Linked DNA regions of Homo sapiens. The protein of the gene in region 1 purifies or fractionates together with the protein of each later gene. This does not show direct contact. Each region holds a gene or a part of one and is shown on either strand. Other genes may lie near its edges.

Evidence for each region.
Region 2: the proteins of ZNF829 (region 1) and CRYBG1 purify together in Homo sapiens (affinity purification with mass spectrometry; 3 studies listed by BioGRID and IntAct, with this or other methods). This does not show direct contact.

Annotation. Positions count from the first base shown.
Region 1 is NC_000019.10:36,888,520-36,892,446, reverse strand, and holds part of ZNF829 (zinc finger protein 829), read left to right. Parts: coding exon 1-955; 3' UTR 956-3,927. UniProt on the Homo sapiens protein: May be involved in transcriptional regulation.
Region 2 is NC_000006.12:106,363,666-106,367,592, reverse strand, and holds part of CRYBG1 (beta/gamma crystallin domain-containing protein 1), read right to left. Parts: intron 1-3,927. UniProt on the Homo sapiens protein: May function as suppressor of malignant melanoma. It may exert its effects through interactions with the cytoskeleton.

The DNA.
Region 1 (3,927 bases):
AATATTATCTCTAAAGAAGAGACATTTCAGTCAAGTAATAATTACCCGTGAAGACATGTCTACTTTTATTCAGCCCACATTTCTTATTCCACCTCAAAAAACTATGAGTGAAGAGAAACCATGGGAATGTAAGATATGTGGAAAGACCTTTAATCAAAACTCACAATTTATCCAACATCAGAGAATTCATTTTGGTGAAAAACACTATGAATCTAAGGAGTATGGGAAGTCCTTTAGTCGTGGCTCACTCGTTACTCGACATCAGAGGATTCACACTGGTAAAAAACCCTATGAATGTAAGGAATGTGGCAAGGCTTTTAGTTGTAGTTCATATTTTTCTCAACATCAGAGGATTCACACTGGTGAGAAACCCTATGAATGTAAGGAATGTGGAAAAGCCTTTAAGTATTGCTCAAACCTTAATGATCATCAGAGAATTCACACTGGTGAGAAACCCTATGAATGTAAAGTATGTGGAAAAGCCTTTACTAAAAGTTCACAACTTTTTCTACATCTGAGAATTCATACTGGTGAGAAACCTTATGAATGTAAAGAATGTGGGAAAGCCTTTACTCAACACTCAAGGCTTATTCAGCATCAGAGAATGCATACTGGTGAGAAACCTTATGAATGTAAGCAGTGTGGGAAGGCCTTTAATAGTGCCTCAACACTTACTAACCATCACAGAATTCATGCTGGTGAGAAGCTCTATGAATGTGAAGAATGTAGAAAGGCCTTTATTCAGAGCTCAGAACTTATTCAACATCAGAGAATCCATACAGATGAAAAACCATATGAATGTAATGAATGTGGGAAGGCCTTTAATAAAGGCTCAAATCTTACTCGACATCAGAGAATTCACACTGGTGAGAAACCCTATGACTGTAAGGAATGTGGAAAGGCTTTTGGTAGTCGCTCTGACCTCATTCGCCATGAGGGAATTCATACTGGTTGAATGACAGTAAAGTAAGACCATTTTGTTAACCTTTATAATAATTTTTTTAAAACAGGTAAGGAGAACAAATTAGGATACATATTATCAAAGGTTCTCCTATGTATTCGTTTTTAAACGATACGATAACAAAGTACCAAGTACCAAAACCTTGGTGGCTTAAAACAAGAGAAATTTATTCTCTCATAGTTTAGAGCCTGGAAATCTAAACTCAAGGGTGCTGATCGTTTTGGTTCCTTCTGAGGACTCTGAGGATCTGTTCTATGCCTTTTTCCTAACCTCTGTTAACAGCTGGCAGTCCTTGGCATTCCATGGCTTTTACATACACCATTCCAATCTCTGCCTCCATCTTCACATTGCATTCTCGCTGTGTATCTCTGTGTATGTCTTTTATTTGGACACCAGTCAGGTTAGATTGGGGTTACCTGGTGACCTCATCTTAACTTGATTATATCTGCCAAGACCCTGTTTCCAAGTAAGGTCACATTTACCGGTACCAGGGGTTAGGACTTCAGCATATCTTTTTAGGGGATACAGTTCAACCCATAATACCCTGTTAGAATGATTTTGTCTAATATATTTGTAATTTCCTTTTATACATAAGTTGTTAGTCAAATTTATTTTATTTTATTTTATTTTGAGACAGAGTCTCGCTCTGTTGCCCAGGCTGGAGTGCAGTGGTGTGATCTCAGCTCACTGCAACCTCCAGCTCCTGAGTTCAAGCGATTCTTGTGCCTCAGCCTCTCAAGTAGTTGGGATTACAGGCATGCGCCACCATGCCCGGCTAATTTTTTTTTTTTTTTTTTTTGTATTTTTAGTAGCGACGGGGTTTCACCATGTTGGCCAGGCTGGTCTTGAACTCCTGACTTCAAGTGATCTGCCCGCCTCAGCCTCCCAAAGTGCTGGGATTACAGACGTGAGCCACCGTGATGGCCAAAACAGACTTTATACCAACAAAAATTAAAAAGGACAAAGAAGGTCATTTATAATGATAAAGGATAAATTCAACAAGAAGATAAAACAATCCTAAATATGTATGCACCCAACACTGCAACACCCAGATCCATAACACAGATACTACTAGACCTAAGAAAAGAGATAGACAGCAATACAACAATAGCAGGGGACTTCACCACTCCATTGACAGCACTAGACAGATCACTGGGACAGAAATCAACAAAGAAACTCTGGACTTAAATTGGACTCTACACCAAATGGACCCAACAGACATCTGAAGAACATTCTACCCAACAACCACAGAATATATACTCTTCTCTTCTGTGCATGGAACATTCTCAAAAATAGGTCATATACTGGACCACAAAGCAAGTATCAATAAATTTTAAAAAAACAAAATCATATCTAACATCTTCTCTGACCATAGTGGAATAAAACTAGATATCAATACCAAGAGGAACTCTCAAAACAGATACATGGAATTTAAACAGCTTGCTCCTGAATGATTTTTGGATCAATGATGAAACTAAGGTGGAAATTTAAAATTTTTTGAAATAAATGAAAATAGAGACAAAACACATGAAAACATCTGAGATACAGCAAAAGCAGTGCTAAGAGAGGATTTTATAGCATTAAATGCCTACACCAAAAAGATAGAAAAATCTCAAATGAATAGCCTAACGTCACATCTCAAGGAACTAGGAAAAAACAAAACAAACTCAACCCAAAGCTGGCAGAAGAAAAGCAATAACAAATATCAGAGCAGGCAAAAATGAGACTGAGAACAAAGGAATGCAAAAGATCAATAAAAGAAAAAGTTGGTTCTTTGCAAAGATAAAACTGACAGACCACTAGCTAGATTAACCAAGAAAAAAAGAAGATTCAAATAAATACAATCAGAAATGATAAGGTGATATTATAACTGATAACACAGACATATAAAATATCAGCAGAAACTATATGCACATATTAGAAAACCTAGAGGAAGTGGATAAATTCCTAGAAACACATAACCTTCCAAGATTGAACCAGGGAGAAATAGGAATCCTCAACAGACTACTGAGTATTGAAATTGAATCAGTAATAGAAAAAAATCTTGCAAAAACAAAAAGCCCAGGACCAGACAGATTCACAGCTGAATTCTACTAGACATGCAAGGAAGAACTAGTAACAGCACTATTGAAACTATTCCAAAAATTATAGGAGGGAATCCTCCCTAACTCATTCTACAAAGCCAGTATCATCCTGATACTGAAGCCAGGCAAGGATAAAACACACAAAAAAACTACAAGCCAATATCCCTGATGAAAATAGACACAAAAATCTTCAGCAAAATACTAGCAAACCAAATCAAACAGTACATAAAAAAGATAGTAACAGCACAGTCAAGTGGATTTTATTCCTGGGGTGTAAGGATGGCTCAACATATGCAACTCAATACATGATTCATCACATACACAGAATTAAAAATAAGCCAGGCACTCACACCTGTAATCCCAGCACTTTGCAAGGCCAAGGCGGGCAGATCACATGATGTCAAGAGTTTGAGACCAGTCTGGCTGACATGGCGAAACCCTGTCTCTACTAAAAATAGAAAAATTGGCTGGGCATGGTGGCAGGCACTGTAGTCCCAGCTACTTGGGAGGCTGAGGCAGGAGAATTACTTGAACCTGAGAAGCGGAGGTTGCAGTGAGCTGAGATAGTGCCATTGCACTCCAGCCTGGGCAACAGAGCAAATTGCTTGAATGTGGGAGGTGGAGGTTGCAGTGAGCCGAGATTATGCCATTGCACTCCAGCCGGGGGAGCAACAAAGCCAGACTCCATCTCAAAAAAAAACCAAAAAAAATCCTATTTAGTACAAGGTACATTATTTAGGTAATGAGTCCATTAAAAGCCAACACTTTCCCCACTACACTATATGTGTATGTAACACAACTGCCCTTGTAACTTCCTAAACCTATAATTAAGAAACAATAAAAGGCAAATTAAGAATGCTTTTTTAAAAGGTGGGGGCATTA
Region 2 (3,927 bases), on another chromosome or scaffold:
TTTTTTTTAGACAGAGTCTGGCTCTGTTGCCAGGCTGGAGTACGGTGGCACAATCTTGGCTCACTGCAACCTCTGACTCCCTGGTTCAAGTGATTCTCCTGCCTCAACCTCCCAAGTAGACGGGATTACAGGCGTATGCCACCACGCCCAGCTAATCTTTGTATTTTTAGTAGAGACGGGGTTTCACCATGTTGACCAGGATGGTCTGGATCTCCTGACCTTGTGATCCGCCCACTTTGGCCTCCCAAAGTGCTGGGATTACAGGTGTGAGCCACCACACCTGGCCCAATATTTTTTTAAAAAAGAGCTAAAGAAGAAAAAAGAAGTGAACTCAAGTTTCGAAGGTCTTACTAAAGGTCCCCAAAAGGGTTTATGTCACTGCCACTTGATTATGGAGAGTAGATTGTGATGGAAAGTGTGGAAATAGAGGGGGGATAAAGTAATTCAATGACAGAGATAAGTGGCAAATGATTATCGTATGCTAAACTCAGACTCCAAAATCCCTTTGGGAAAAACTCCTGTAATGTCAAGTAGAAAGTTTAGCCTTGGCTTCCTCAGTGAGATATATTAAGACTTTTAAGGCACTGAGAGCGCATGAAGGGTCTCCCTTTTAGAGACCAACATGAACATCCAAATACTCAAAGGTACTTCAAAGCTTAACAGACCTGGTTACGACTTCTGGGCCTCTGAAGTTTTTACTCCACTCACAAAGTAACAATGTATGTATTAATACTACTACCATTACTATAAAGACAACAATAATTACAACTATCACTGCCAGTATTGCCCCTGCTACTGACCACCACCTTTCCTCTATCCAGCACTTGCTTTGAGCCAAGCCCTGTGCTGGGTGCTTTACATAGATAACATCCAATCCTCCTACAGCTCCATAAGAGAAGTGTAATTGCCTCCATTTTACAGGTGAAGAAACTGAGACTTAAAGAGGTTAAAAATCTATCCCAATGGCAGAGGCAGATTTGAAACTAAGTCTGCCCAACACCAAAGTCTACTATCCTTTGACTGTGGCATGCTTTCAGAGGTACTATTTACTGAGTTTCTGTTATCTGCCAGGTACTAGGCTAGTCATTTTTAAAAAATATATATTTATAACTCTCAAAAACAATGTTAAGAGATAGGTCACAGATCATACAACAGAAGTTATCGGGGTAAACTAACTTCCCAAGAAGCTCACAGCTAGTGGCAGACTTACTTTTAAATTACTGGTTTATCACTGGTGAAATAAAATAAACCTAAAAATTAAAACTCTTTCCTTTAGTATAAGGAAAATAAGAGGGAAAACTCAGTACTAACCAGTTTAAATCTAACATTACATAAAACAAAAATAGACTTACCTGGCTATGTTCTTTATGCTAGAAAATAATTAAACCTGTTTAGAGTTCTAAGCACCAAACCAGCCACAAAAGACTGGAAACTAGAATCAATTTTAAGTTACGAAGACTAACACTCTACAGTTCCAGAATGCTTTCAAATAACATTTTAAATGATTGTTCTTTTTCTGAAGAAAAAAGAAAAACGCTCCAGATAACAATAGTTTATCCTTACAACATTCTAGTGATATAAACAGGGAGTTAGTTGTTTTCTCTTTATAGAAGGGAAAGGTCCACTGAGTACAGAAAAACTAAGGGATTGTCTATAGTTCTGAAACTTGAGCCTGCTGGCCTTCACTCAGAGGTAGATCTCTGCCTGCCCAATGAGGATGCTCTGCCCTTGACACTGGCTACACTTTTCCTCCAACTGAAACAAGGCGAGCTGATTTTCACAGGATTATGAGACCCATCTACTGCTTGAATTTGGCTCTCCTGCAGGGAGCATTAATGCTTGTTTCTAGATGTGGAGTTCAATTCAGTTCAATGGTGATAATTTTTAATTCACTGCTTTTTTTAAAAAAAAATACAGGTTCTTAAACAAAGAACTCAATGGAAATAATTCACTGCTTTTGACCTTTAGCTAAGGACCCACTTCTAATCAAAATAACAAAAAGTATGGCCACATGTGGTGGCTCACACCCGTAATCCTAGCACTTGGGAGGCCAAGGCGGGAGGACTGCTTGAGCCTAGGAGTTTGAGACCAGCCTGGGCAACATAGTGAGACCCTGTCTCTATTTATGTTTTTTTTTTTTTGGTTTTGTTTCGTTTTGCTTTTTTTGAGACAGAGTCTCACTCTGTCACCCAGTCTGGGGTGCAATGGCACGATCTCAGATCACTGCAACCTCCACCTCCCAGGTTCAAGTGATTTTCCTGCATCAGCCTCCCAAGTAGCTATGATTACAGGCGTCCGCCACCACCCCTGGCTAATTTTTTGTATTTTTACATACATGGTTTCACCATGTTGGCCAGGCTGGTCTTGAACTCCTGACCTCAGGTGATCCACCCGCCTCCACCTCCTAAAGTGCTGGGATTACAGGTGTGGGCCACCACATGCAGCCTTTTTATGTTTTAATATTTTTACTATTTTTAATATTTAAAAAAACCAAAATAACACAAAGTGGCTTGAATAGATAAAAAGAAAGTACCACTTTCATTATATAGCAGAAAAACACACAAAATTCCTACTCCAAAGGAGGCATAAGCAAGAAACTAGTAAGAAAAAGAGAAACAACTCCCATTGGTTGAGCACATACTATGTGCCAACCACTGTTCTGAGCACTTGAAATGCATTAACTCGTTTATTTTTATAACAACTCTTATGATTCCCATTTTGTGAATGAGAAAATTGTGGCACAAAAATGTTAATAACTTTCCTAGGATGATAGGATTCAGTGTCATGGTAAGTATTAACAGAAGAACAAGAATTTAAATCCAAGTAGAGAATCCACATTCTGAGCACATTATTCACAAGACAGAGTATAATTTAAAATGTGGTAAATGACAGTGCCACTAGTGGCTGCTAAGTGGCCTGGCCACAGCTCGCCATGCTCATTCCACCACACCACTAGACCCTCTAATGGCAAGAGAATTATGGACTAGACAGGGGATGGGGCTGACTCAGGAGGGCAGCAACTCTATCTTTGTGAAAAATAACATCATATGACCATGTTTACCAAAACCAAGCTGAAAAAAAACTTTAAGAGTAAATTTTGGAAAGAGAAGTAGCCAAGTTCAAATTATTTCATATAAAGAAATAATTGATTAGAATGTCTATACCAAAAGCCACAAATATTTGCAGAATACGAAAATCTGACTTTAATAAACTTTAAATCATCTTTGGACTGGCAAGCTTTTCTTTCTTTTTTTTTTTATTTTTTGAGATGGAGTTTCACTCTTGTTGCCCAGGCTAGAGTGCGATGGCATGATCTTGGCTCACCACAACCTTCATCTCCTGGGTTCAAGGGATTCTCCTGTCTCAGCCTCCTGAGTAGCTGGGATTACAGGTGTGAGCCACCATGCCCAGCTAATTTTTTTGTACTTTTAGTAAAGATGAGGTTTCACTATGTTGGCCAAGCTGGTCTCAAACTCCTGACCTCAGGTGATCCACCTGCTTTGGCCTCCCAAAGTACTGGGATTAGAGGCGTGAGTGACCGCACCCGGCTGGACTGGTAAACTTTTCTAGGAAAAGATCTTCCTAGAGTTGGTTTTCCCCTATCCAAACCTATCTTTTCCATTTCTTCCATTAGACCTTTGCTTTGATGATGATGATGATGATGATGATGACCAGGATGCTTTTGCATTTACTGAGTTTCTACTTTGTGCTCAGAAGTGTGTTAAGGTTTTTGCACTTAATAACATAAACTTTCATTTAATATTCATGACAACCCTACAGAGTCAGCATCCTATTGTCTCCATATTACAGATGAGGAAATTGAGATTTTAAGAGGTGAAATAACTTGCCCAAGGTCACAAAGCTAGTAGATAAATTCATTTTTTTCTGACCTAAACACCCATAATATTAATCAAATAAGCAAATATG